Linked DNA regions of Homo sapiens: regions 1 and 2 are each linked to region 3. The links come from fine-mapping of genetic effects on gene expression. A gene starts in region 3. Each other region holds a variant in brackets. All regions are shown on one strand. Distances are between the middles of the regions. Region 1 overlaps LOC105373133 (a long non-coding RNA gene). Region 2 has its middle 6.2 kb from the start of TLR8-AS1. Region 3 holds the start of TMSB4X (thymosin beta 4 X-linked).

Evidence for each region.
Region 1: its variant is fine-mapped to the expression of TMSB4X in adrenal gland (GTEx, PIP above 0.99).
Region 2: its variant is fine-mapped to the expression of TMSB4X in whole blood (TOPMed, PIP above 0.99).

What each region holds. Positions count from the first base shown.
Region 1 is chrX:13,095,503-13,105,576 of GRCh38, reverse strand. It overlaps LOC105373133 (a long non-coding RNA gene), which reads right to left. Exons shown (of 4, transcript NR_171577.1): 4 at 9,782-9,934. Among named protein-coding and RNA genes, the nearest start is that of FAM9C, 56 kb to the right of the region's middle. RefSeq lists a silencer at 2,433-2,727. The variant C/G (reference allele first, on the strand shown) is at 3,689.
Region 2 is chrX:12,944,423-12,954,496 of GRCh38, reverse strand. No RefSeq gene overlaps it. Among named protein-coding and RNA genes, the nearest start is that of TLR8-AS1, 6.2 kb to the right of the region's middle. RefSeq lists enhancers at 3,133-3,362, 3,293-3,587, 3,993-4,287, 7,285-7,414 and cis regulatory regions at 3,216-3,645, 3,915-4,327, 7,289-7,732. The variant G/C (reference allele first, on the strand shown) is at 4,188.
Region 3 is chrX:12,970,912-12,980,985 of GRCh38, reverse strand. It overlaps TMSB4X (thymosin beta 4 X-linked), which reads right to left and starts at 5,876. Exons shown (of 3, transcript NM_021109.4): 1 at 5,818-5,876; 2 at 4,625-4,740; 3 at 3,763-4,209. The coding sequence starts at 4,724. The coding sequence ends at 4,175. RefSeq lists enhancers at 1,404-1,463, 3,064-3,183, 4,319-5,157, 5,997-6,836, 6,960-7,079 and 2 more and a cis regulatory region at 2,418-2,710.

The sequences.
Region 1 (10,074 bases), 120 kb before region 3:
GCTCTGAGTTGCTGTCCCAGGCTGAGCACACTGCCTTCAGCTGCCTTCCAGCACAGTTCTGCTCCTTGTTTTCCTGAGCTGTTTACTTGCCCTCCCTGAGGTTGGCAAAGCCCATCTCTTTTCATCTGGGAGTATTAGTCTCCAGATCTGTACAATTCAATCATTAGTCCCAATAACATCTTCACATTTTCAACCAAGAAGCCAGAAGAATTCCCGGTCCCCTGTGCCCTGTGGGGATAGACCAATGATCCCACATTTGACATACAGGAATGCCTTGGCTCACTCCACCATGACCTTTGCTAAACATCTTCTACTCCCTCCTTCTCTTAAATGCAATTAAACCTGAACCTATGTGTAATATAAATGTGATACTGAGCATGAATAAATGGTTTAATTCTCAACTTGTGTCCTATAGAAGCAACAGAATATGCTTAGGTTTAAAAAATGAAAAACTTACATTATTTACTATAATAAGGCTCTTCTTTTGTGCTATTAAGAAAGAAGTATTTTGATATCCTCATTTTCCTAGTATGTGTCCTAAATCAAAAGAAAATAGCCCCTTGCTAATTTTAACTCCAAATTTTTAAGTTAATGATCTCTATCTGGTTTTAGGAGCTATAATAGCAATCTAGTTCTGCCCTAACAATTCAGGAACAAAGAGCTATTAAAGATAAAAGTTGGGTCACATAACTGCTGGGTGTTAGAGGCTTCTAGGACTTTCCACTGCCCATTGAACATAATCCCAAACTGCCTATAATTACTGACTTCATGTGCCTAAACACGAGATCCGCTGTCCCCTCCGAGCCCTCTAGAGCATTCGATCACACGGGCCTCCTCTTTCATTCCTGGAGCACACAAGGCCCTTTCGTGTCTCAGGGCTTCTTTCTGTTTCCTCAACACACTTCATCACCTTTTGTTTTTTACAGCTTTGTTAAGGAATAACTCACGAGTCGTACAATTGATCCTGTTAAAGTGTACAATTCAGTGGCTGTTAGTACATTCACAAAGATGTGTAGCTGTTACCACGATCAACTTTAGAACATTTTTATCACCTCCAAAGAAAACCCCATATCCATTAGCAGTCTCGCCCCATTCCCCCATACCCTCAGTCCCTGGCAACCATTAACCTACTTTCTGTCTCTATGGATTTGCCTATTTTGGACATCTCTTATAAATGGGATTATACAATTTCTGGCATTTTGTGACTGACTTCTTTCACTTAGCATGATGCTTTCAAGGTTGATCCATGTTGTAGCATGTATCAATAATTCAATCCTTTTTATGGTTGAATAATATTCCACCATATGTATATTTTATTTATTCATGTTTTGTTGATCCATTCATCTGTTGCTGGGCATTTGGGTTGTTTCTACTTCTTGTCTTTTATCAATAATGCTGCTATGAACATTTGTGTACAAGTTTTTGTGTGGATGTATGTTTTTATTTTCTTTAGGACAGAACTTGCAGGGTCATATTGTCAGAGACGTTCAAACCGGAGTGACTCCATCTTGAATAGGGGCTGAGTAAAATAAGGCTGAGACCTGCTGGGCTGCATTCCCAGTAGGTTAGGCATTTTCAGTCACAGGGTGAGATAGGAGGTCAGCAGAAGATACAGGTCAATAAGACCTTGCTGATAAAACAGGTTGCAGTAAAGAAGCTGGTCAAAACCCACCAAAACCAAGGTGGCAACGTAAGTGAACTCTGGTTGTCCTCACTGCTCATTATACACTAGTTATAACGCGTTGGCATGCTAAGAGGCACTTCCACCAGCACCATGACAGTTTACAAATGCCATGGCAATGTCCAGAAGTTACCCTAAATGATCTACAAATGGGAGGAGCCTTTACTTCCAGGAATTGCCCACCTCTTTCCCAGAAACCTCAAGAATAATCCACCCCTTGTTTAGCATATGATCAAGAAATAACCATAAGTATACTCAGTCGGGCAGCTCATGCCACTACTATGGAGTGATCCTACTCCTATAGAGTAGCCATTCTTTTATTCCTTTACTTTCTTTCACTTTACCCTATGGGCTCGACCCAAATTCTTTATTGCATAAGGTAACAATATGGTAACTCTGTGTTTAAACTTTTGAGGAACTGTCAAACTGCTTTCCAAAGTGGCTCTACCATTTTACAATCCCATCAGCAGTGTAAAAGAGTTCTAATTTCTCCACATCCTCACCAACATTTGTTGTTGTTTGTCTTTTTTTATAATAGCCCTTCTTGTGTGTTTGATGAAATATCTCATTGTGGTTTTGATTTGTATTTCCCTTATGACTAATTGAGGATCTTTCCACGTGGGTATTAGCCATTTGAATAGCCTATTTGGAAAAATGTCTATTTAGAATCTTGTCCCTCTTTAGAATGATTTGTCTACCTGTTCACTTGTTTACCACCCCCCACTCCCCACCCTGCTGCTAATTTATAAGTTCTGTGAGGGTAGGCACCATGATGCTTTTGTTCGGTATTACATACCCACGACCCAAAAAACCATCTGACACATAGTAGAAACTCAATAAATAATTGTGGCTGATTGCATTAATGTCTTCTGTACTATGCTAATTAGAGCTCATGGAAATAAGATAATCAAGGGTCCAGGCACTCTAACTATAGCTCTCCACTCTTCTAAGCTCATTGGGTTGTTTTATGACCTGCTTAGACTTTCATAAGATCTGACTTGTGTTTAATACTTGGACATGTGCTGCCCTAGAAAACCTCTTTCTAATCTCAATATCAAAAGTTTGGCTTTCCAAGGAATGCTCTGTGTTTTTAGTCCACAAACAGGACATGCTTGCCATTCCTGTTACTGTTTTGCCTGTAGCTTTGTAGCCTTATTCTTCTGGATTCCTTACTATGTGAGAGTTAAAGAAAAAGTGAGAAGATGAGGAAGGTATTCTACATTTTTGTTCTTTCAGGTTAATGTGGCTGTAAAGAGAGGAATAAGATTAATGATAATCGCTCTCCTCTTTTTCTGACCTCCTCGGGGCCATCCAAAGTAGTTTGGAAAAGATATTGTAATAAAGCATTTTGTTTTGTTTTTGTTTTTGTTTTTTTTCACTCCTGAAGTTCATACCCCATCCCCACTCTTACTTAACTGCAGTGGCACTTAAAAGTCAATGAGATCACCCCAATATAAGATTAACTTTGTAGAATTCATGAATTCCATGAACCAAAGGAAAAATGGTTACTGGCTAGTTAAGACCATGTACGCACAATGCCCATTACTATTTGGTCAAATAACATATTTTTATCATTTCTAATGGCTACATAGCATCCCATTATATGAAAAATGATGCAATTATATGTTTATTGTTGAGTGGTGAAAATCCCATCTTTATTTTAAAAGTATATAGGAAAATAATGTGAAAATATATGCCAACTCTTAATATGGGTATCTAAGAATGTCTAAGGTAATGGATGGATTTCACTTTACTTTCTTCTTATTCATCTCACTTTAAAACTATTCTACAGTGGGAATATGCCAGTTGTGTAATTTGTAAAATGAAATAATAATGATGTGCAGCTATCAGTAAAGATATTCTGTGTCCAGAGTGAGCCAGTGACGCCTTGTGAGTCTGAACAGAGAAGCGCCTGCCTAGCTTCGTTCAGGTCTCCTCGCTCCTCCCAGGCCTAGCCTCGCCTTGTCCGCTGATCTGTCTGTGAGTCATCATTTGCTTTATTTCCCA[C/G]CACACCCAGTCTCAAATGAATGTTCACTTCCTTCACAGCAAGTTCCTACTCTAATTGCCAAGGACTTCTATTTCTGTCTTCACAATGGGTCAAAGTTCAGACTACAGAAAATTAACTCTGTATTTTCATTAGCAGGGCTACTCTTTTCTACTACGCAGTTGCTATTAACATTTTCTTCCATGTAGATCTATGTAATTGGTGAAATCTGTCTGTCTCACAGTCCTGCAAATACGCCTTCTGCACATGCCTGAAAATTCCCCCTCCCCTAAGTAACTACAGTGATTTTATGAGCTCTCACTTTTACCATGAGAATGAACACCTTCTAATCTGATTTTATCCAAAAGAATGTCTCTCTGTTACTCTCTTATTAAAAAGTCATCTCTTATCAATGCTTCCCCTTCTACCTCCACCCTCCACCACCACTCTTTTGAGGACGTAGAGGTTTAAATTAACCTGCACTGTTTAAAATAATGAACTATTAGACATAACATAAAGATCCAACCAAAAGGAAGAGGCAAGGAGCAGCATGGCCAGGTGTTCAGAGCTTGGACTCTGATCCTGGACCATTTGGGGTTGAACCCCAAATGGCAAGTTAATTACCTTCTCCTTAACTCAGTTTCTCTGTAAAACAGGAGTAATCATACTACCTACCTCACAGGCATGCTGTTACAGTGCTTAGAAAAGTGCTGGGCACAGAGGAAGCACTAGGTTTGTTAGTTGTTAATATTTTCAAGCCTACAATGGAATATAATGTAGTCATTACAATGGGTGATGAAGATGCATATTTATTAGCACGCAAGCTGCTTCACAATACGGCATTAGCTCAAAGAAGCAGATTTCAGGATTTCAGGACAGTGGCTACAACATGATCCCATTTGAAATATACATGCATCATGTATGTATATGGATCTATGGACGAATATAGCACTGATATGCTAGCAGTGGTTTTTACTGGGTGGTAGAGTTTTAATTGATTTTATTCATTGATTAGTTTCTTTTTCCTTATTTTCTAATTTTTCAGCATTAATTATGCATGACTTTAGTATTGTTTTAAAATAAAGAAAATAATTCTCTACTTGCCTGGTTGAATCCTGTGGCTTCAGGGTTTCAGATCCTTTTTATATGGGAGGTACATAAACACCTACATTGTTAGGATTGTTTTGTTGTTTGTTTGCTTGCCTGTTTTGGGAATGAATTATATTTAGACAGTAGTTAATCACTTTGGTTTTAGTCTTTTTACAAATGTATGTTTCCTTAAGTATCTAGTCTCTCTCTCTCTCTCTTATTTTTTTTTTTGCTAGAAGGTATCTACTCTCATGGAAGCTTAAGGAAGCACAGTTCAGCTCAAGCAAGCAGTAGAACCTAGGTCTCTTGCCTCCTACTCCAGGCTTCTTCCAACTACACCACCTTTGATTAATAACCATTGATCCCTTATGTTTACCAGAGCCTGAGGTGCTCTAGTTGCCCATGAAGATTGTTAATTAGCTATAAGTTTTAAAAAACATTCCACAACAGGATTAAAGTAACAGGACTTTTAAATTCTTTTAGCTGAGAGGTACCAAAATGTTTGAACAACAATATTTGATTAATTAACATAGAAAATCAGGTCAGTCCCAATTGGTTTCTGTCTGCAAATAAAACTTAAATCATGCTGGTTGTACTTATGCAATGTCAGAATAGTTTGTCCAATTCAGGAAAAACAGATCAACTGGTTTGTTTGGTATTACATAGTCCAAATATCTGGATGCCTGGATTTTATAGAGGTTGGGGCTCAGAGAATGATACCCCAAAGTATCAGCTGTGGCATGCTGAGCACTTTTGAAGTGAAGGAAATTGGAAGTCCTTAAAAGCTGCCTTTAGAACCAAGGACTTTGTAACCTTCCCTTGTTTCTACCCCTAAAGTGCATGAAGGGGCTCTCTCTGGGAGTTCCTTTATCTGTGGGAAGAAAACTTCTTGGAAAAGAGATTCAATTTTCTTAAAACCCCTTATCTATGAATCTCATCAAATAACCAGGAAAGATTGGCCACCAAAGAGGAGAAAAGACTAAAAGTCACCTCCATGCCCAGGCAGACTTCTATTCTTCTGAGGCAAGGTCCAAGAGATTACCTGGAAGATTTTACTTACATAATAAGACAACCTTTGTTCATAGTGAAGTTCTACCCCTCACTTTCTTGAAATTTGTCAGCCACCTCTCCAGAGCTCAGAGAAATTTTGTCCCAGGCTATTGTCTCTTCTATGGGCTTATTCATTTCCCCTGAAAATCATTCATTACACCTCAAAATTGCCTACATTCCTCTATTTCTCTCCCTTCTGTGAAGAATGTGCTATTTAAGCTTCACCCATCTGGCCCTTCTTTTAGTATCATATTTTGTATGGCTCCCATACACACTTACACATTAATAAACTTGTATGCCCTTTCTCCTCTTTATCAGTTTATTTCAGCAGACTCAAACCTTCAGAGGGGAAGGGAAAAATTCCCTTTGCCCTTACATAGAAGTTGGGTGTTTTGTTGCTACTGTCTGTGTTTCCTTTTCTCTAAAACACAATAATGATTCATACTCCAATATCCTTCATGAATTTTTTTGAAAATAAGCAGGACAAGTTCTACTTTTGTCTAGAAAAGTATTACTGTAAGACCAAAGAGCTTCCACACATCCCTGTTGAAAAAGGTCATGATGACTTCCTGTAAGAACAGTGGACCTAAAAATATGAACCAGAATCCATCACAGCACCATAGCTGGCAGCCCAGTAATGTATGACATAAGGAGACAATATTCTTATTCAGGATCAAGGTTAAGAATTGATTTTTTTTTTTTTTAAATAGAGATGAGGTCTTGCTATGTTACCCAGGCTGGTCTTGAACTTTTGGCCTCAAGTGATCCTCCCACCTTGGCCTCCCAAAGTTCTGGGATTATAGGCATGAACCTCCACAGCAGCCTGATTGATATTTTTTAGTGTGCCAAAATTTATTTATTTGTCAACAACCTTTCCCCTCCAGTTTATATTCAAATAAAATATCACACATGAAAGCCACTTTTATTACGACATGCCTATGATAGCAGAGTGATGGATGAGGGAACAGGCTGAATGTTCAGTATAAATGCCCTAAAATCCCTGCATTCTTGGTGATTCTTCTCTTTTTGTCTAATTGTGTGGCAACATCCCCTGCTCTGACTTACACCTCACCATCTTGTTTAGGCCTGGACATAGACTTCGCATCTTTACCACACCAGACATGAAGCATCATGAGTGGCTTTAGATATTCAGGATTTCTCAAAGTCTCATCCCAGAGCCACCTATATCAGGATAATCTGGCTGCTTATTAAATATCGCAACAATCTAGGTCTCACTTCACAGGTACTGAATAAACATTTCTGGAAGTGGAGCTTGGAAATCTGCATACTAATCAAACTTTCCCAATTATTCTATGTACTCTGCAGTTAGAGAAGTGAAGAATCCAATGTTTAGGTCAATATTCTTCTCTCTGGAGACTGACCTTGTCTTAGTCAGCATGAGCTGCTATAACAAAGTACCAGAGACTGGGTGGCTTGAACAGTAAACATTTATTTCTCATGGTTCTGGAGGCTGGGAAGTCCAAGATCAAGGTGCTGGCAAATCCAGTGTCTGGTGGGGGCCCACCTCTTGGTTTGCAGATGTCTATCTTCTCATTGTATCCTCACATAATGGAGAGCAGAGAGCAAGAACAAGCTCTCATGACCTAATTATGTCCTAAAGGCCCCATCTCTTAATACCATCTCATTGGGGGGTTAGGATTTCATCATGTAAATTAGGGGTAAACACAAAACATTCAACCCATAATAGACCTTAAGCCAGAGTGTTATGCATTGGACCAGAAGCCAATGGCACCACCTATCTCCTTACCCTGCTGTCCAAGATGACAGGGGTGAAGGCAAGAAACAACCCCAATTCACTGCAAATGAGAGTGTATAATAGGACACTGGTAAGAGAATAAAAAAGCTAGTCAAGAGTTTGGATAAAATATTTGCAAATCATGTATCTGATTTTAAAAACTCATATCGAGAAATATCTAAAGAACTGTCACATTCCAATAATCAAACAAAACAAACAACTCAATTAAAAAATGATCAAAAGATTTGATTACACACGAGAAACAGATGGCAAATACACTCATGAAGCTCATGAATGTTCAATATCATTAGTCATTAGGGCAATGTTCAATATAATTAGTCATTAGGGCAATGCAAACTAAAAGCACAATGCAATGCCACTGAAAACCCAAGAGAATGTCTACAGTTTTTACTTAACTATTTTTAAATATTTTCTAGATATGGGGTTTCACTCTGTTGCCCATGCTGGAGTACAGTGGAGTGATCCTAGCTCACTGCAACCTCAAACTCCTGGGTTCAAGCGAGCCTCCTGCCTCAGCCTCCCAAGTAACTGGGGCTATGCCTGGCTTATAATAAAAAAAAAAACAAAAAACAAAAAAACAAAAAAAAAAACTGACAATACTGCCAAGGATGCAAAGCAATTGGAAATCTTATCAAATACTAGTGGAAATGCAAAATGATACTGCCACTTTGGAAAACTGTATGGGAGTTTCTTTTAACACAGCATACAACTCAGCATTTCTACTCCTAGGTAATTTACTAATAGAATGGAAATGCTTGTCTACGCAAGTACTTCTAAGAGAAAGTTCATAGCAGCACTGTTCATAATTGCCCCAAACTAGAAACAATCCAAATGCTCTATTAATAGGTAAATGTATAAACAAACTTTGGTATATCCATGTAATGGAATACTGCTCAGATATAAAAAGAAACAAGTACTGATATGCACAACATAAATGAATCTCAGAAGCGTCATGCTGAGTGAAAACAGTGAGAGACAAAAGGCCACATTTTATATGGTTCCATTAATACAACATTCTGGAAAAAACAAAGCTATAGGTACACAAAACAGATCAGTAGTTTCCAGGAACTGGGGATTGGTGGGAGGAGACTGACTTCAAAGAAGCAAAGTGGAACTTTGTGGGGTGATATACTCAATATCTTAGTTGTGGTGGTAGTTACATCTCTACATTTGTTTTACAAAACTCATAGAATTGTATTCATAAAAGGGTTAAATTATACTGTAGGTAAATTTTATATCATTAAATCGGACATTAACAACAACAACAACAACAAAAAGTCTATGATAGAGTCTGTGGGCCCACAAAACATGTGCAGTAATATGTTCACCATTTCCCAAATCAAAACTTACTTGTGCTAGTGGAACTAAAATAAGAAAGAAGTGATTCCATAAAAAATATACAGAGGAGGCCGGGCGTGGTGGCTCATGCCTGTAATCCCAGTACTTTGGGAGGCCAAGGCGGGTAGATCATGAGGTCAGGAGTTCAAGATCAGCCTGGCCAAGATGCTGAAACCCCATCTCTACTAAAAATACAAAAAAAAAAAATAGCCTGGTGTGGTGGTGGACGCCTGTAATCTCAGCTACTCGGGAGGCTGAGGCAGAGAATTGCTTAAACCCAGGAGGTGGAGGATACAGTGAGCCGAGATCACGCCACTGCACTCCAGCCTGGGTGACAGAGTGAAACTCCATCTCAAAAAAAAAAAAAAAAAAAAAAAAAAATATGCGGAGCAGAGAACCAAATCCCCCACCATGATGGAGGCTTCCGAGGTCCATGATGTGGGGTTTCAGTGGCAGATACATTGACTTCCTAATAAGGAAGCCTCTGCCAGTCCATGGTCATTTCTCCCTAAGCAATCCTGTGTGCTCTTTAGAATAAGAAAGAAATTAACTCCAAATCATGACAGATCCAATAAGTTATACATTAAAACAACTCATATGGAAGTTGAGCTGCAGGAAATCAATGTGGAAAATGTAGGGCTAATTCCCATTGCATTACCAGTCCCACTGAGAAAGCTAAATTCTGCTCTGAAAACAGTTTCAGGACAAGTACATTCGATAGTCTCTCAAAAAATGGCAAAGAAAATCAAGTAGAAAGTGTTCTGTTTTTGTTCAGAAAATGACTATCAACACAACAAGAGAGCAGTGGAAAAAATAAATGTTTAAAAACAAACCAAAAAAAAAAATAAGAAAAGAAAGGGAAAGATATTGAATCACCCCATTGTTTTGATTTCCTTGTGCCAACGACAAAACCTGAGTGATTGACATTTCTTATTTGCTGACTTGATCAGACTATTTGATATCACACAGACATGGCAATTTTTCCCGTGGCAATCCCGGGGTGTCATCTCAGATTCTGTAAGAAAGGACCAAGGAATATATAATTGTATCAAGCTGCCATTTAATGAGGCACTAGATGCATCTCACAGACAAAGGTCAAAGTTTGAGATAGCAGAAGGGTTGGGACTTTAGGTAATCTGAAAACAAGCACTGTGT
Region 2 (10,074 bases), 26 kb after region 3:
GGTCTTCTGCAGTGACATTTGTCCCAATTGCTGCCACCTGTGTGTTCTCTTTTTATTTTTATTTATTTAGAGATGGAGTCTCTCTCTGTCGCCCAGGCTGGAGTACAGTGGCGCAATCCCGGCTCACTACAACCCCTCCCTCCTGGGTTCAAGCGATTCTCTTGCCTCAGCCTCCCCAGTAGCTGGGACTACAGGACCATACTCGGCTAATTTTTGTATTTGTAGTAGCGACAGGGTTTCACCATGTTGGCCATGCCAGTCTTGAACTCCTGATCTCTGGTGATCCACTCGCCTCAGCCTCCCAAAGTGCTGGGATTACAGGTGTGAGCCACCGTGTCTAGCCCCACTTGTGTGTTCTCTGTCTTCTTTCCCCATCAGGTTGGATCTCCTCAGTGGTCGGCCTGGGTCCTATTTGTCTCTGTATCTCCAGGACATAGCAACGACGGCCCTCTGTAAATAATACTCGTTGAGTGGTGAGAACCATATGGGGCAGCAGGATTTGACGCCTGAATCATGAAAACTGGGGAGATTGTTATTAATCTGGAGAGCTCCTCTTTTTTTTTTTTTTTTTTTTTTTAAGACGGGGTCTTGCTCTGTTGCTCAGGCTGGAGTGCAGTGGTGTGATCATAGCTCACTGTAGCCTCGACCTCCTAGGCTCAAGCAATCTTCCCACCTCAGCCTCCCGAGTAGCTGGGATCACAGGCACACACCACCATGCCTGTCTAATTTTTTAAATTTTTTCTAGAGACACGGTCTCACTATGTTGCCCAGGCTAGACTTGAACTCTTGGGCTCAAGCAATTCTCCCACTTTGGCCTCCCAAAATACTGGGATTACAGGCGTGAGCCACGGCTCTGGGCCAAGACAGCTCCTCTTCGAAAACAAGTGCTGATGTGGGCGTCAGCTTCCCCTCCCTCATGAACATGCTCAACTCAGGTTTCCGCTATTCTGTTAGAGACCCTGTTTATTACTAGCCCATATGAGAGGAAGAGCCTTTGAACCCTTCTGTCTAGGCTTCTAGGGTGGTCATAAGGCTTGACCCAACCTCGTGACTGTGGTGTCAGTGGATGGTACCTTCATTCTTCATTCGGAGAGAAAGAATACATAACAATGATAGTAATATGAGAATTACATGGATGTTTCTGATCTTAAATGTCATTCAAGAATCACTGTAGAAAATCTGGAGATTATGATAATATCTGACATTTATGGCCTGCTTTACTACATGCTGAAGGCTAGTCTAAGAATTTCTCATTTAAACTTCAGAACAAGGTAATGCAGTATGATTGAGGTTAAGTGCTAGAATGGTTCCCTCACATTATAGAAGAGAACCAGGTTACCTGACTTGCCCAAAGTCACATTGTTGGGAAGTGGGAGCTAGGATTTGAATCCAGGGTAGGGGCCAAGGGAAAACCTCCCCTTCGCCCTCTGAAGGTTTACTGAAAAATCAACTCAAAAAAGGCAGATTAATAGACTGGGCACACTGGGTATAATCTGAGCACTTTGGGAGGCTGAGGCTGAGGCTGGAGGATCGCTTGAGGCCAGAGGATCACATGGGTCCAGGAGTTTGAGACTAGCCTGGGCAACATAACGAGATCACCGTCTCTACGAAAACATTTTTTTAAATACTAGGTGTGGTGGCACACGCCTAATTTTTAGTTGTGGTGGTACATGCCTAAAACATTTTTTAAAAAATTCAGGAGTGGTGGTACGTGCCTGTCATCTCAGCTACTCAGGAGGCTGAAGTGGGAGGGTTGCTTGAGCCCAGGAGTTCAAGGTTACAGTGAGCTATGATTGTGCCACTGCACTCCAGCCTAAACAACAGAGTTAAGACCCTGTCTAAAAAAAAAAAAGCCTCGCCACTGAACTCCAGTCTAAGTGACAGAGTGAGACTCTGGCTCTAAAACAAAATGAGATGAAGAACCACATATGCAACAGCCCAGTAGTCATTTCTTCTTACATATCCCACAGACCCCCTATACTCAGTATGTCCAACACACCGATAACTAATCCTCTTGACTCTGCTGAGAGAGAGCATTAAAATATATATAATAGGCCGGGCATGGTGGCTCACGCCTGTAATCCCAGCACTTTGGGAGGCCAAGGCAGGCGGATCACAAGGTCAGGAGTTTGAGACCAGCCTGGCCAACATGGTGAAACCCTGTCTCTACTAAAAATACAAAAATTAGCCAGGCTTGGTGGCGTGCACCTGTAATCCCAGCTACTCGGGAGGCTGAGGCAGGAGAATTGCTTGAACCTGGGAGGCGGAGGTTGCAGTGAGCTGAGATCACACCACTGCACTCCAGCCTGGGCAACAGAGCAAGACTCCGTCTCAAAAAAAATTTATAATAATAATAAATTAAAAGGCAGATTAATTGGAGAAAAAGCATACAAATTTATTGTGCACATGGAGGAGAACCATAGAGTGATTACCAATCCCCGCAGTGGGGTACAGAAGCCTTGAGGTTACAGAAAGACTGGAGGCTTGGATCTTGGCAAAGAGATTATGGCATGGGGAGAAGAGGAGGCCTGGCTGGCAAAGGCGTTCTTGTTACATAGGAGAAATCTCAGAGGTAGCCGCTCTCAGACAGAATAGATAGTAAATGTTTCTTTCAGACCTTTAAAGGTATCAGACTCTCAGTTTTTCCTAGATATGGACAAGAGAGAGCCTCAGAGAAAGCCTGGCTGTATCAACGTAGTTTTTCTCTGCAGATGCAAATCTTCGCCACATGAGACAGTTTTGTAGGGCTGCTTCTGTTTGCGGGCCCTGTGAACAGCCATCTCAAAATATGTCAAAGAAATATATTTTGGGGTAAAATATGTTGATTCCTTCACTGGGCTTGAGGTGCCCCACTCCCAAGTTTGAGAGAAGAATCTGGGAGAGGTTTGGGAGATTTTTTTCTTTCTGGTTTTAATTGCACTCTGTTTCCTCCAGAGTTTACAGTTATTATTATTACTGTGTGATCTAATTATGTGCAAGCAACATAATCACAGAACTGATTATGCCTCTGAAAATTGGAAGGGAATATTTTGGGGGAAAAACCCAAATTGAGAAATGACTGAGTTTATAGCCAGTAACAGCTGTTGTTTTTAGGAAGTTAAATCGATTTCTTTTGCTCAAAGAGTTTCTACTTCCTGAAGAGATGTACCCTGTTTTCTATGGGTGCAAAGGCAGTCTGTGTACATCATGATACTCCATACGGGCCTGATGGCGCTCAAACAGAAGGCCAGGCCAGCAGGCATCAGAAGCTTTTCCTTTCCCCCAGTTTCCTGTTTCCAGATCGTATTCCAAAGCTATAATTTCTACTTACCTTGAAGACCTTCAGTTTTCCCTGTTTCCTTCCTCTACTCCCTGAGCCTCTCACTATGAGATCCCTAGAGTGTGGTTGTAACGGCCTCCTCTAGCGGGTGCCCAGGCCCCAGTCTGCTCTGCTCCACACTTCCCCCTAGGGGCAGTTCTCTGCCTGCGTCCATGCTACCCCCTGCTTCTAAACCTTCCAGCGATCCTCAACACCAGTCGCCTATAAAGTACAAGGGCCTTGCACTTTATAGTTGGCCTTCAGGGAGGGCACAGTTTGCAGCCAGTACTGCCTACCAGCACACTTCTGTTTCCTTCAGCTCACCAAAGCTTTAGCCATGAGAGTTTATCATTCCTTCCTCATCTTCCTGTCCACGCCTGTATTTCCAGATCATTCACACTGTGCCCTCTGCCAGGAATGCCTTAGTCTCATTTCCAACCTCACGGCCACCTTAGGAGACAGCTCTTGTGGCATAGATGTTAAGATGGAAGGTTCTGGAGTCAGGCTGCAGGATTTGTATACTAATTCTGCCCAGGGTGTGCAGCCTGTGCAGTCACATAAGAGCCACACTAAGGAGGGCTCCGGGCTTGGTTTTTTGCTCTGCTACCACCATCTTGAAATTCTTAATCATTTTTGAACCAGGGCACTGGACTTGCAAACTATGTAGCCAATTCTGCTTCTGACACTGACAAACTGTCTAACTATAAAATCAGGATGACAGTGAAGGCTTAGAACAGGGTCAGGCACTTTGGAAGCGGTCAGTGAATGGGAGCTATCATTATCCCCATCTTACACACCAGGAAAGAGGCTCAGTGAGTTGCTCCACACCCCACAGCTGTCACGTGACAGAAACGGTGACGTGGCTTACTTTCACTTCCCACGCCGATGT[G/C]AACTTTCCTACGTAGCCCTGACTCTTTGTAGCACGTGGTCATGTCTGCTCTCAGTGTATTATGTGGCAGTATTTAAAGGCTGCTCATACTGCCTTTGTTCCTTTAGAAGTAAGCAAAGCACAGAGTTAGTATTTCTCACACTTGAAAAATGAGAACAGTAAATCAGTGACTGCCTTAAACATCCAAATCCAATTATGACCTTTGCTGAGACAAAGATGCTGGCATCAGAGTCTGGAGTCTGGGGCTCTGTGAACCCACACACCATGCCTGTCCCTCTTCAGTCTGGAGCCAGAATCCTCCCTTTCCCACAAAAGACAAAAGATGCTAACAGATGCACGCTGGTTTCCGGAGGAAAAGGCCACTTCTGTGAGCCAGTGGGAAGACGGGAAGTCTTTCCTGCAGGAAGGGGGTAGGTAGCTCAGGATACTAGCAGGAGATGCTTTTAATTGTTCTGCAACAGTGACAGCTCAGCATCGTGATTCCTGGTGGTGCTGGGGTGCAGTACTATTGTTAATGTCAGCTCCCATTCATTCATTCCTCTATTTTCACACTCACACATTCTGAATGCAGTTATTATGCTGTGGTCTTGGGGAAGGAGCTGTGCTAGTGGAAAGTGATGCAAAGTGAAAAGAATATTCTTGCCACTTGGGGATTAGGGAGAAAACCAGCAAGTATGCAAAGATTCACAACCATCTGGTGAGTGCCTAAAGCCAGATATTATCAGAACTCGGGTAAAACCAGAGGCCTAGAAAAGGCAGGAAAAACATGGCTCCCTCAAGAGGTGAAATTTGAGCTGAGATTTGAGGGATAAGGAGATCTGATTGCCAGTCCCGTTGAATTCATTTCCTATCCCTGTAGTAGCAAAGGACCACAGATCCAGCAGCTTAAACAACACAAATTGATCATCTTAAAGTTCTGGAGGTCAGAAGTCTCACTGGGCCAAAATCAACGTACCTGGTAGGCTACATCTTTTCATGGAGGTTCTGGGGGAGAAGCTGCTTCCCTGCCTTTCCAGCTTCTAGAGGCCTTCTAGATTCCTTGCTTCCTCCATCTTCAAAGCTGGCAATGTCACATCTCTCTGACCAGTCCTGCATAGTCACATTTCCCCCTGACTCTCCTCTTGAGCTGCCCTCCTTCACTTTTAAGGGCCCTTGTCACTACACTAGGCCCACCCGGATAATCTAGGATGATCTCCCTACTTGGAGGTCACCTGACTAGCAATATTAAATCCGTCTGCAGTCAAAATTCCCTTTTGCCATGTAACCAAATATTCATAGGTTCCAGGGATTAGGATGCAGACATGTTTTGGGGCTGCTACTCTGCCTGCTATGCTCATTTTGTAGATTACTTGCTGTGTGCCCCTGAGCAATTTTGTCCAGTCTCTCTGAGCCTGAGGCTTCTTGTCTGTAAAAAGTAGAAATAAGACCCGCCCTGCCCATCTCACCTGAGAATGTAATGAGATAGTGTTTGTAAAAATGCTTTAATAATGGCAAAGGTCTCTGTCAGCATAGATGTTCCTATGAGGGGGAAGGGCAGGGGATAACATCCTGAGTGTCTGCTGCATTCTAGGTAGGTACTAGGAGATGGTTTATCCCAGATGGCGCATACCTCTTCCCAATTCCACATTCAGAGCTGTCACACTGGTGTCTTGAGATCTGCCATGGTGACAGTATTTACACCATGGAAATACTCCAAATCAGGGCTGCCCCCACCACCTTGAGAACCAGTTGTTAAACATTTACCAGCACATGACAGGTCTATTCCATTTATTTAAGAAAAACCACCTGAAGGGGCTTTTATTCCTTTATAGTATAGATAGGCAAGTCAAGCTCACAGCCAGTGATAAACCCACCTAAGATCTCACAGCTGGTAAGAGTGACTGAGTGTTGAGGCTGGCTTGTCATACTCCAAAGTTGATTTTTCCACTGTACCCTCAAAACCATTCTTCACTCCTCCAGTTCTGCCTACCCTTGACAGGTTTGATTACTCTAACTAACCAAGAGAATTGTGGGACTTAATAGCAGGTTCAAAACTGTAACTGTCATGCCTAAGTTGGTGGATGGCCACGTTTTGGCTGTGGAAGTGCAGTTTCCTGGGGGCTCACCTGGGTCACTGCCAACTTGACCTAAATCAAGTTTAAAGCCTTCCACCCTAGAGGTTAGGCAGCATATGAAAATACTGAATTCTCCACTGTCAACTGCAGAGGGTTAAAAGGGATTTGATGTAAACAAATTGCCAGGTCACACAAAAGTCAAAGTGCCACATGGCTTCCTCTTAGACAACCTGGAAGTGTTTGAAGGTCAGCAAACACAAGTGCTTCATTCAGAAGTGAACAAAGCAAATAGCAGGCTAGCATTATTGACCTTTGGGAGCAGAATTAATGGTGGCAATTGGAGATTTAAAACAAAACCAAACTGACTTGACTTCATGTTCTATTTTAATCAGGTTCCTATTTCTCTGTGTACTAACTTTGTTTTATTAAGTTTTGGGTTTTATTTTAAATGTGCTCAAAGCATAAGACATCTAAAGTAGTTAGTGGGCGTGAGGAATTAATTGACCCAGGAGCAAAGACTGCACATCTGACAATGGTTCTCAGTTTGGCTGTACATGGGAACCACCTGGGGACCTTTCAAAACGCCAGCTGCCCTGGTTGCATGCAGACCAGTTAATCCAAATCTCGGGGGCAGGGGGTAGGGGGGTCCCTGGCATTGGTCCTTGCGGATTGAAGCTCCCAGGTGATTCCCATGTGCAGCCAAGGTCGAGAACCACTACTCTTGTAGTTTATTTCCCTTATTCCCACTTAGCGTTTCTATTTTTTGAGTTTCTGTTGTGTATAGTCTGTTTGGGAAAAGCACTGTATCCAGTTACATGAGAGGTCCTGACACCACAGAAGGTGAAAAGGCCTCAGGGCGTTTCCTAGTGGGTGTTTCAGAGAATAAAGAATCCCCACACCTAGAAAACCAGTTCTCCCACACTCACCAGGAGTGACATCACCAGGAGCCAATAAAAAATTTCCACTTGAGTTTACCAGTTAAGCCCTCAATTGATTGAACCTAGAAATTGCTAGACAAACTGTGAAGGATTAGGTTCCTCCAAACTGCTCCTTTTATGAGGCCCATTCTCTGATTTACACTAGATCTAGCCTCTTACCAGTTCTCTCAGTTTCAATGCATTTGTTCTGTGGCTGTTGTAGTATTGGCAGGAGGAGGATTTGAGTCCGCAGGCAGATAAGAAGCCAAGTTTCAGAGGAAAAACAATGGAGATTCCACACCCTGAGCTCCTTGAGTCTAAAACCAAAGCCTAAAGGCTGTAGGCAAATTGTTGCTGCCCCCTATTGGCAGTGATTGGTGTTGACGCATGAGAAAGAGTCCAAGCCCCCTGGTGGTAAATTCCAGCTAGGCCCATCCCTTGCTGTCGCTCCACATTCCACTAACAATGCTGTAGGCACAAAAGAATTCCCCCTTAAATATATCAGATGGGAGTTGTGAAAGGAAAATAAATCTTGGGACCCCAAAATCACTAAGCTAAAGGGAAGTCAAGCTGGGAACTGCGTCAAGCAAACCTGCCTCCCATTTTATTCCTAAATAAGACAGCTACAAAGATAAAAAAAAAAAAAAGACATACCTCCCTCACAATTTGCCCACAAGGAAATTCCTCGTGGACAAAGGACAGACAGAGCTCAAAGTCATCCCTCTGAGGCTCATGTGAGACAAATGCATATCTGATTGCTTCCTCTGCCCTGTCGTTTCACCAAGGCAGACCAGGCATAAGTGACTATTCCTCCACCCTCCTCTCCCATGTGAATTGTATATTCAGTGAAAGGCTAATCAGAGACCCAATAGAATGCAACAAATGTCTCTTATCTACCTGTGATCTGGAAGCCCCCTCCCCTGATTCGAGTTGTCCTGCCTGTCTGGACGGAACCAATGTACATCTTACACATGTTGATTGATGTCTCACGTCTCCCTAAAATGTGTAGAACCAAGCTGTGCTCCGACCACCTTGGGCCCATGTAGCCAGGACCTCTTGAGGCTGTGTCATGGGTGCATCCTTAACCTTGGCAAAATAAACTTTCTAAATTGACTGAGGCCTGTCTCAGATATTTTGGATTCACAAATTGGTAACCATGAAGGGATTCTGAGTGGAGGTACCCCTGACCTTTGACAAATCTACTGTTGGTGCTTGGTACCAGCTTGAGCTATCTTTATGGCTCAAGCCAGTAGGACAATTGGCTGAGGCCTGGGAGACACCCCCACCCCCGACCAAGAGAATCCCTGATCTCTCCAAATTTGGTTGAGATCTAAAGTTTATTTTGCTGTATAACTCCTTTTCTGGAGTTTCACTTGCTCCCAAAAAGGAAGGCAAGTTTTCCTGCTTCCATGATGAAGAGTGCAGGTAACTCCTTTCTGGAATTTCAGCTCACTTCCAACAGGGAAGGCGAGTTTGAGTTTTTTCCTGCTTCAAAGATGGTAGAGAGCAGTGTTCAGCCTGAGCCCCATTCCTAGGTAAGTAGCTGAATTGGGCTTTTGTCTTGGCTAAAGTTAAAATTAACAATCAGCTGGTTTTAATTTATCCTTACCATTAGAGCGCTTGGTAATCATATATTAGGTTGGTGCAAAAGTAATTGCGGTTTTGCATTCTTTTTAATGGCAAAAAGCACAATTACTTTTGCACCAACCTATAAATTGTGGCATTGTTTGCTTTGCTTAGCTGTTTTTTGTTGTTCTTTGTTTCTGTTTTGGTTGTTGTTTTGGTCTTTTTTTCATTGGTTTCATGCACATCCGTGTGAAGAGACCACCAAACAGGCTTTGTGTTAGCAACAAGGCTGTTTATTTCACCTGGGTGCAGGCGGGCTGAGTCCGAAAAGAGAGTCAGCCAAGGGAGATAAAGGTGGGGCTGTTTTATAGGATTTGGGTAGATAAAGGAAAATTACAGTCAAAGGGGGCTGTTCTCTGGCGGGCAGGAGTGGGGGTCACAATGTACTCAGTGGGGGAGCTTTTGAGCCAGGATGAGCCAGGAGAAGGAATTTCACAAGACAATGTCATCAGTTAAGGCACGAACAGGTCATTTTCACTTCTTTCGTGGTGGAATGTCATCAGTTAAGGCAGGAACCGGCCATCTGGATGTGTACGTGCAGGTCACAGGGGATATGATGGCTTAGCTTGAGCTCAGAGGCCTGACATTCCTGTCTTCTTATATTAATAAGAAAAATAAAACGAAATAGTGGTAAAGTGTTGGGACGGTGAAAATTTTGGGGGGTGGTGTGGAGAGATAATGGACGATGTTTCTCAGGGCTGCTTCGAGCGGGATTAGGGGCGGCGTGGGAACCTAGAGTGGGAGAGATTAAGCTGAAGGAAGTTTTTGTGGTAAGGGGTGATATTGTGGGGTTGTTAGAAGAAACATTTGTCATTTAGAATTATTGGTGATGGCCTGGATACAGTTTTGTATGAATTGAAAAACTAAACGGAATAAGAGAAGGAGAAAACAGGTATTAAAGGACTAAGAATTGGGAGGACCTAGGACATCTAATTAGAGAGTGCCTAAGGAGGTTCAGCATAGCCTTGCCAGTAAAGATTATTTATTTACTTCAAGAGTTTAGAGTGGCAGTTTGGGGATAGCACCAGGAGATATCAGCTGTGATGTCTTGGAGAAACAGTGTAAACCGGCAGTGTAAACAAGAGCAGGGCATGTATGAGTAGTTGAGAACGGTGAATAGGAGTATGACTAGACAGAAGATAGTAGGGATGACAAGTTTTTTGGGGCACAGTCTAAGTTGGTCTGGTGTCTGGAATGAGACTGGGGCCTAATAAAAAGGAGCGTCTATACAGGAGCTCAAATGGGCTGTACCCTGTAGCATTCTGAGCACAGGTCTGACTTCTGAGAAGG
Region 3 (10,074 bases):
ATCAGCACAGCCGGCCAGGCGCGTTGGCTCAAGCCTGTAATCCTAGCACTTTGGGAGGCCGAGGCGGGCGGATTGCCTGAGCTCAGGAGTTCGAGACCAGCCTAGGCAACATGGTGAAACCCCCGTCTCTGTTAAAATACAGAAAAAAAAAAAAAATTAGCCCAGCATGGCAGCATGCGTCTGTAGTCCCAGCTACTTGGGAGGCTGAGGCAGGAGAATTGCTTGAACCCAGGAGGTGGAGGTTGCAGTGAGCCGAGATTGTGCCACTGCACTCCAGCCTGGCGACAGAGTGAGACTCCATCTCAAAAAACAAAAACAAAAACAAAAAACTCAGCACAACCAAAGTCAGGCAAATTGCTGTTCAAAGCTCTTTAAATATATTTGTTAAAAACATATTTAAAATTGTGATGTCTAACATGACATTCACATGTTCAAAGGGACCCCCAAACCAGCATGTTAAATGAAGTCTCGACTGGGCGTGGTCGCTCACACCTGTAACCCCAGCTCTTTGGGAGGCTGAGGCAGTTGGATTGCTTGAGCTCGGGAGTTTGAGACGAGCCTGGGCAACATGGCGAAATAAAAAATAAAAAAAAAAAAATTAGCCAGGCATGGTGGCGCATGCCTGTGGTCCCAGCTACTCGGAAGGCTGAGGTGGGAGGATCCCTTGAGCCTGGGAGGCGGAGGTTGCAGTGAGCCGAGATTGCGCCACTGCCCTCCTGCCTGTGACAGAGAGAGACCCCATCTCAAAAAAAATAAAAATAAAAAAAAATGAAGTCTCCATCAAGTAAGGGGAGAAGTGTGCTTTGAGGCACAGAAGGAAGAGTGCGTGGTGTATGCACACAGTGAATGTGGCATGCACCAGCCCTGCCTACAAAAGTCTCAGAAGCCAGGGGCAAAGATGGTATTAGCACGACAATGTGATTACAGAAATAAAATGCTATGCAAGTGTCCAAGGAAAATATAAACTAGGTAAATACAGGTCTTAGAAACATATTTTCTTCCTAGCTTGCTTTGTTGTATATCTCTGCCTTACATTTGTAATTTCACCCCTTCTCATTACATGCAGAGAAAACCTAGTTGAGTCCCAAATTGGTGTGTTTGATTCTCTTAGATTGCAGTGTAAGCCACTCTTGAAAGTGTAATCGAAAAGAAAGGATTTGGGGAGTGTGGAGTGCGGAGGGTGGTTTTTTCTTATTTTCTTGCTAGGCTAGTGAAGGCTACTAGGGTAAATGAAGCATTGAGTGCTTTCAACGTTTTTAAACAACGTTTGAAGTTTCCATTCTTGAACAAAGAAAGACTCAAGATTTTTTATTTTTACTCTTTGTCTGTAATATTGTCTCCAAAACGCTCTGTTCTTTCTCGTTAGCACAAAATTGACCCCATATGTTTAGAAAAAAAAAATGCAAAAATATTTTCTTTTTGTCTCTTGAGGAATTAGATGCTTCTTTGGGGGAAAATAAACAGACCTTCCTTGTGCATTTAAAGGAGACAATACCTGATTCTGACTATAATGGGTCTCTTACACAGCCGAGAGACTCAAAGTTTGTGAAGATTTTGAACCCCACCTCCCCCCCATACACACTCAATCTTTGCATACACAGCCCAAAAGCTGTGTTGTTCTCCTGAAAGAATAAAATAGCTTTAAAATTCCAACCACTGGAAGGCTGCAAATGTGGCTGTGATGGTTGACAAATTTGCGAGATTTCAAAATGAAGCCAGCTCAATCTCAAAGGTCCTTTAGTGAGTCTCTTTTTATTTCCTTTATTTTTGCTTTATTTGTCTTGGTCAATTCAAAATTTGCAGAAATCCCAGACTAAACTGTGTGACCTTCGGGGCTTACTTAAGCTACCTTGGCCTGTTTTGTCCTGGGGGGAAGAGAAACAGTCATAGGGTCTCCTTCAATCCCAACGTTCTCTCATTCTAAGGGTAAACCTAATGTCCTCTTTGTATCTGTGAAAAATACTGTCGACTCCCAAGTCCTACATAGCAGGAACATATATCCCCACACTGACTCATAAATACCCCCAGCCCTTCTGGGAAGAATCTCTCTTGGGAAAAACAAAGAATCCCCCATCAAAATTAAAAAAATAAATTCTCTCCCATCCCCGTGTGCAGCAGTTAAGTGTACAGAGTGTGATATGGGCAGAAGCTTCTGAATTTCCCCATTCCACACGTCAAGCAGCCTGAATTCAATCATTACCATTTTACTTTTTTTTTTTTGTGCTATGTTTTAGCTTCGTCCCTCTAGGGGAGAAAGGTCTTTTAGTCCATGAATTATCCCTTTTCCTAAATGTTCCTTCTTCAACTGAGGAACACTGGAGCTGTGTTAATTTCTTAAAATCTTCTTTCGTCTTTGCATTGTTTGAAAAAGGCACACAGCAAAAGCCCACGTGGGAATGGTTTCTCTTTGTGCCTTGGGCATTTGCACTGTGCCCACACCCTTCCCTATAGGCAAGAAAACTACAGGGCTCCAGGCCCGTCTCCATCTTGAGATGGCTCCAGAACCTTTGTGCTTACTCCTCTCTTCACGGAGCTAAGCGGGCTGTGGCGCTTCAGGTTTTGTAGCAGCCTCTGCAGCAGCCTGTACACACCCCTTCCCTTGCAACGCAGAGCAAGGCTTCTAGCCTGATGGTCTACTTGATTGTCTAAACCACAGGTAAATGGTTTCCTGTGCATTTCTCAAAATAAGCGTTGAGCAAAGGAAATGAAAGCAACCAATTTAATAGTGATCAACAATTTTCCCTACCCCTCCGCTTCAAAAAGGGTATTTTCATAAATCGGTTTTGAGAGAAAAATGTTTAACTTCTTGGACATTTGCGTTGTAAAATTTAGCTTTGCAGAACATTCAGTGAACTAAGAGCCTTCTTAAATGCTGTTGTTTCGGCTTAATAAAACTGGTGCTTATTTAAAAAAAAAAGTCTCCACCCTTCCCTACAGAACCGAGGAATCCATTAAGGACCTTATAGAATGGCAAATCTTTTTTTAACTCTTAAAAAATTGACGTTGTTTCCGTCTTCCCGCACCAAGGACTTTGCTTTTACCCATCAGTGAAAATAACTACTTCCGATGATTGAGAAGTTATCAAGGACTCAAAGACCTAAATGTGAGTCAATTAATTCCCGCTGGATTTAAACTTAGTACAAATCTCACCTGTGTCCTGCTAGTGTCCTTTAAACCCAAAAGATCGAATAAGTATCTTTTAAATCCAAAGATTATTCAAATGAAGAGGACCCAATAAATTTAAAATCATGTTCACTAATCTTAACTGTATTCATTAAAGCAATTGTAAATATTGAACTCTGATTAGAAACCGGCCATTAGAAAATGAGTAAGCTCAAGTCCTAAATTCCTTCTTAACGCAGCTGCTAAAAATGTAATTTTTACTCATCTATGTTAATGCTAGCACTTGGTTAAATAACCAAGTTCAATTTGATACCCTGAAATAAGATACTGTGCTGTAAATTATCACCTTCATTTTCTTGAGCACGTGCAATGTCAGCTTATCAAAACCCGTAAGAACTGCAAAGATATTTTTATTAAAGCTCTCACACAATTCATACTAGGAATTCAATCAGCCTGAGAAAATGATCTCCTAGTATAGACAAGGTATTTTGCATACCTGGGTGAAACCCATTTCTATGCCATAAGGGAATTTATCCAGTCACCAGATGCTTGTCCCTCCCCAATGGACCAAGAGGTAGGCCTCTTTGCAAAGGTTTCATCCGCGATCCTTCCAGAAACCAAACAGACACACCAGCTAAGTTTTTAAACTTTTTATTTGCATATTAAAAAAATTGTGCATTCCAATAATTAAAATCATTTGAACAAAAAAAAAAATGGCACTCTGATTAAACTGCATTACAGCCTGCAGGACACCTTGGGCCAGCTTGGTTTTACTCTAGATTTCACTGTCGTCCCACCCCACTTCTTCCACCCCACTTCTTCCTTCACCAACATGCAAGTTCTTTCCTTCCCTGCCAGCCAGATAGATAGACAGATGGGAAAGGCAGGCGCGGCCTTCGTTGTCAGTAGTTCTTTGATGTGAAAGGGGCAGCACAGTCATTTAAACTTGATCCAACCTCTTTGCATCTTACAAAGTTAAACAGCTAAAAGAAGTAAAATAAGAAGGCAATGCTTGTGGAATGTACAGTGCATATTGGCGGCGCACGCCTCATTACGATTCGCCTGCTTGCTTCTCCTGTTCAATCGCTGTGACCAGAAAAAAAAAAAAAAAAAAGATGGAGGGAGATGATTAAAGGATTCAGTACAGACTAAAGGGCTTTCATTTAAAGCATCTTTTCAAATCATAAACATTCTACACGGTATTCCACAATGGAATAAAATATGTATATTGAATATACTAAATAGAAATACATTTTAATGGATAAATGTTTGTATATTAATATGGCATATTAAATATTCCATTACTAAATTACTAAAGCCCCGTGTTTGTTGGCTGCAAAACCATTTTTAATTAACCTTTGCAAGCCACATTCATCAACTGTCGGCTCTTCCCCCGCACTCCCCCCTCCCGAATTCTTCCCGCGGCCGCTCCCAGCCTCCCGCCCTCCCACCGGCCGCTCCCACCCAGCCTTTCTAAAGATGGGGGTGGGTCGGAGCTCACTTTCTTTGGAAGGCAGTGGATTTTTCTCTTGCGTCTCTGTCTTCTTCAGTTTCGACTTATCGAATTTCTCGATCTCAGCCATATCGGGTTTGTCAGACATGGTTGCGGAGGAAAAGCTGCAGGGAGCAAGCCAAGAGCGAGCGTGAGGAAGAGCCACCCGCCCCGCTGTCTCTGGGCTGGGAACTGCACTTCTGCCCTCCGACCCGCAGCCTGAAAAAAACCCTTCTCGCTCTCCTACTGCTGCCGTTCCGCGCTCACGAGCTTCCTCTTTCTACAGAAAAAGAGGCGACACCCCCCGCGCCCCTCCTCCCCATATTTCAAAACGCTGTGGACCAAAGAGGGCGGATGCCTCTCAAAGCCGAATCTTGCAGAATAAAGGAAATTGACCACTGCGAATTGTTAATTACAGCGTTTAAAATTAAAGGCTGGCTAGGACAAGGAAAGAAGAGGAAAGCCACTTCCAAATTCAAGTGGGAAAAATCGGCAAGAATTCCTAAAATGGAGCCCAGGTAGGAAAAGCGTTTCCATTTCCTAGCCGCGGCCTCTCCGCAAGGATGCGGGCCGGATCCGGCTTTCTAGTCCTCTCACAAAGGCGGCGGCCGCGGCTGGAGCTTCCGACCACCGCCCTACCGGCTTCATCGCCCGCGTCACAATGCAGCCCCGCACACAAAGCGGCCGCCGCGCGCCCCGAAGCCGGTCTTGCCTGCTCTCCCGGCAATTCGGCATCCCTGGCACACATGTCTCTGCAAGAAGGACTGTAAAGATGTCATAGCACAGCCCCGCCGCCGCCAGGCTGCACAGATGCAGCCCGCGCAGCCGTCCGAGGCTGGGAGGAGGCTCGGGGCTCGGAAGATGAACCTCAGAACAAAGGACTTGTCTATTCCCCCATATCTCAGCCTCCAAGGCAACGCACAATACCTTTGCGGGCAAACACTAAGAAATTTTTTAATGTCCCCTCCGAGCGGCACGGCAAAACGCCAGTTTTTCGGTTTTGTTCTTAAATCATCGATTTCCCCACCCCATTATCCAGTATCTAGGGTGTTTCGCATCCCCCCAGCTCCCCAAAGTAGCCTTCCCGGGGAGAACCACTCGGGCTCGGATTTAGGGAATGCCTTCACAGGGACGCGGATGATGAAAGGGCGGGGACGGAGGCAGGACGGCAGGAGGAAGGAGGCAGGGGCCCTGGGGCTCACCGAAGCGAGGCGCACGAGTACGAGCGAAGTCTGGTCTGCGCAGTGGCCACCACCGAGTTGTCGGGCGGGGTGCGGCGGGCGCAGCTTTATGGGCGCTCCTATGTAAATGAGGTGATGTCACCCGCCGGCCCGCTTAACTCCTTCGCGCCGCGTCTCGGAACGGCATCCGGAGGCCTGCCGGGCTTTTGGGGAGGGGAGCCCCACCCCCACCCGGGGTCCACTAGTGCATGCACCCTAACCACAACGATGGCGAAAAAAATGAGCAAAGCACCCTCCAACACTTCATAACACATTTTCCCCTTTTACGTTTATTTCATTACGATGAATTTTTGCAACAGCAGCGCAGAAATTGCTCTTGGGGACCAGTGCATAATAACTAAGGGTCGGGGTGGCACCTGGGGTGACAGGCATTCTTTTATTTCGAAACTGCCTTTGTCTACTGTGGACATCTCCACACAAGGGCGCGGTGTCCCTCCCTGGAGGGCCTGGCCCGCTGCAGGGGTACGATTCCTGTGACTCAGCTTTCAGTCCAGTGGCGGGCATGCGCCCCACCCCGGGCCTCTTTGTCTTCCTCGCTGGCGTTCCTCTTGCCTTGGGTGGGACGTAAAGCACCCTTAAGTGATTTTAAAAGAGAAAGTTTCATCACTGAAACATCCATATTGTTTCATCAGCATAATTTTTGTGAGCACTCAACAGTAGTATTTGCTGGGTGTAAGGTAATTTGGAGTTTATAGGGTAAAACACCTCCCTCTTAGCAAAATAAGTCAAGCTCAAGCTCTGCCATTGACTTTACTGCCGGACAATGAGGAAGTTCTTTACCTTCCTCTTCCTTATTTTCATAAATTTTAAAAGTGATGGCTAAGGAGGCCAGCGTTGAATTCCAAAGACTACAGTTACATTATCTCTAATGTCTTAAGATGAAATTCAAAAATCAAATTATATTTTCAAGGGAGCGTTTCCAGCACTAGGACATCGCTGAAGTGCATCTGCATCTGGAAATATAAGAGATTCGGGTAGAGGGAAGCAGTTTTCAAAATGGCACCTGACTCTGTGAATACCAGTGACCCACTTGCTACTGAAAATTAGTTACAAATACCATGCCACGCGCCTGCAAATGGCGTGTGAAAGGAAAAAGACTCGCCGGTTATAAAGAGGCCTAGCTGTGATTATTTCTAAGAGACAAGGCAGTGTGCAAAATATTCCTTCTCCTTTTCCGTGGCCTGGGGAAATGTTTTTAGAAACCCCTTGCTAATCATTTTTATGGCACAGGCTTTTGTCTCGCTGGGGATTAGAGTCAACCTTATATATAGACCCTTGAATGCCACTGCCAGCAGCTTGGACTTCCCCGTTTCTCCATCTACTTGACTTCCTTTTTCCTGGGGAGGAAGGAGGTGGGGGTGAGCAGGGGCAGGTGACCGTCTGGTCCCCTAGTTAATGCTCTGCTGGGTGGCTGCCTTCCTGGCCTCCGAATGGGGCACTGGACCTGTTCGTGCATGCACCAAATGTCACCTGTCTGGTAACAGCCCCCCCGCCCCTGTTCCATGTTGGGAGTCTACTTCATCGTTGAAACACAGAAAAGATCTTGCAGGGTGCCTTTTCGCCCGTTTAGCTGGCAGCTGCCGTTGTACCGACACCGTTTCCGCAGGTTCTGTGATTCTGTTTCCCCTCACCCAGCTGCTGTCGAAAATCATTTCTTTCCTCCCAATGTCTCCTGATGACAAAGGAGTGCCACTACCTTCTCCTGGCTTCTTCTCCCAAGGGCCTTTCCTCAGAAAGGGTTAGGCCTCACTGAAGCAATTCTCCAAAGGAGATGGACGAATGCAAACTTGGAAATGTCTGGAGAAGTTTTCCAGTGCGGTAGCAAGCAGCCTTCCACTGTGCTGAGACACTGATGGAGGGCAGGTGGAAACAGAGAGGAAGAGAAAGAGAGACGACTGCTTAAAGGAAAAGAGTTCCCATGATTGGGACTGACCTGCCAACCGGTCAGGAGACCTAGAGAGACAGGAAAGGGAAGGGTGGTGCAGATACAAGGAAATGCAAACCAAAGGAATATTCTTAAAAGTTGCATGACTCTGGCCATGTGAATGAATCTTTCTGTGCTGGAGTTTTCTCATCTGTAAAATGGGTTCATTGCAACACCGACCTCACAGGGTTGTTGGGAGGAGTAAATGCTTCGGACAGTGCATGACAATTAGTAAGCTCTTTCTATTGTTATTATTCGTATGATTTAGGATGGAAGGTTGAGGAAAAATAATAAAATAATTGTCTTAGTGTTTAGAATTAATTAAAAATTTTAGGTGTCTTGATATTATTTCTCCTATAGAGACATTTATATATTATTATATATTATTTCTATATAATTAATACATATGAATATATATTATTATTTTCACTTACAAAATGTTGATAGAAGATCTTTTGGTAGTTTTACAGCAAATAAAACATGACAACTCCTGTCGGTTGATATTTTCTAAGAGTCAGGCATTGTAACGTAAGTTTTACATTTGTTTTTTCCTTTCTTTCCCACCGCCTTTCCATAAGAAATTTCCAGATGGGGAAACTGAGGCTTAGAGAGCCATCATTGGGTTACCTCAGCTGGTAGCCACTCTGTTATATATGCCAAGAGCATGTAAAAGTCCTCCCCACATCCTCTTAGTCTGTACCCGAGAATCACCAGGAAGAGTGTGAGGAGCTAGGCAGTTGTGCTTTCCACAGCGTCTGGTGGATAGTAATTGCTCAATAACAGTTCTCCCACTGCATTGAATTGATTTTCTTTTCTTTTCTTTTTTTGAGACAGTCTCGCTCTGTCACCCAGGCTGGAGTGCAGTGATGTGATCTCGGCTCACTGCAACCTCCACCTCCCGGATTCAAGCCATTCTCTGCCTCAGCCTTCCATGAATTGATTTTCTTAAATGAGGGAGGTACTTGAACTCAGGTGTTGAACCTGTGACTCTAATTGTCTTGCTTTCTTCTCCCCAGATAATTAAATCCATTTAGTCTTAATGTTCTAGATGTCAGAATGTTCCAGGATCATCCCTGCCCCAGGCAGCTACATTTATAAGTCTGTTAGTATGTGCCGGGCACAACTACCATTGAGGTAGCAGTTTTCGATCCCAATTAAAAAGACAGAGGCACACAGGGGCAAAGGAACTGCTTACAATGGGTGCAGACATTGTTCCCAGTGAGACCCCCCCCCAAAAAAAAAGGCCTTGGGTGACTCCGGGTTGTATGGTGCACTCTGGCCTTGGGGCTCTCTGGTGAAAGATAAGTAGAGTCCACTTTGCGCCTGTCCTGCCTTCCTCATCTCACGGGCCACAGCGCCCAATGAAAAATGTGCCAACATTGCCTGCGTTGAAGGGCGGTTCCCCTCCAACCCTGTGTCTGGTGGAACCCGGAAAAGGTGGCAGGGGACGCAGTTTTATTTTGCTTTCCAGGGCGGGCCTGGGATAGAGTCGTGGCTATTTCTAACCATGGAGAAGTTGGCTAGAAGTCTGAATTCATGAAAATGAGTTCTATTAGTTTGAACCTATTTAATTTTGTGCCAAAAACTTACCAGAAGAAGAGAAGAAGGAAGAGGAGGGAGGAACGGAAGAACAGGAACAAAGCTGAGCTCCCAGCTCTTGCTTTCTCAAGCCCAGATCCCTTTGTCTGAGTTTCAGGGCCTCCTACCATCTGCCCCACCTGCCTGCACCCCACGTTCCCCTGTGGCCCCTGCAGTCTCCATCTGGTCTCCCTCACAGCAGAGCCCTCCTTCCACTGATTGGAATCTAAAACCCCTTAAAGACACAGCCTAAGTCCCCCCTGTGAATAACAGGAAAATGAAAAGAGAAAGGATATTTAGTAGACTAGCTATATCTTGTAACCTCAGCTATAAGCCCTTTTAAACAATATCTGATTCCATTCTTACCCTATGGAGTGAGTACTAATATCCCCATTTTACTACTAAAGAAATTGAGGCTCCGAGAATTTAAGCAATTTGCTCTTAATCAAATGCCCAGGTCTGTCTACCAAGTCTTTCCACCGAGGCCTATCTCTGCCTTATCTTTAGTTGAAGTATCTTTCTCCAGGACTCCCACCCAGAGCGGACCCACATGGTGCAAAGAGGAAGGCGAGCAGGGGGTGGCAGGAAAGCAAAGAGGAGTGAAAGAACACCCTCGCCTGTGCTCAGTGCTGAGTGCCGTGCTGCTAATTGTCCTGTTTGCTTTATTGATCCGATGGAAACTTTAGAGCCAAAAGAAATGTAAAAGGGGATCTCAT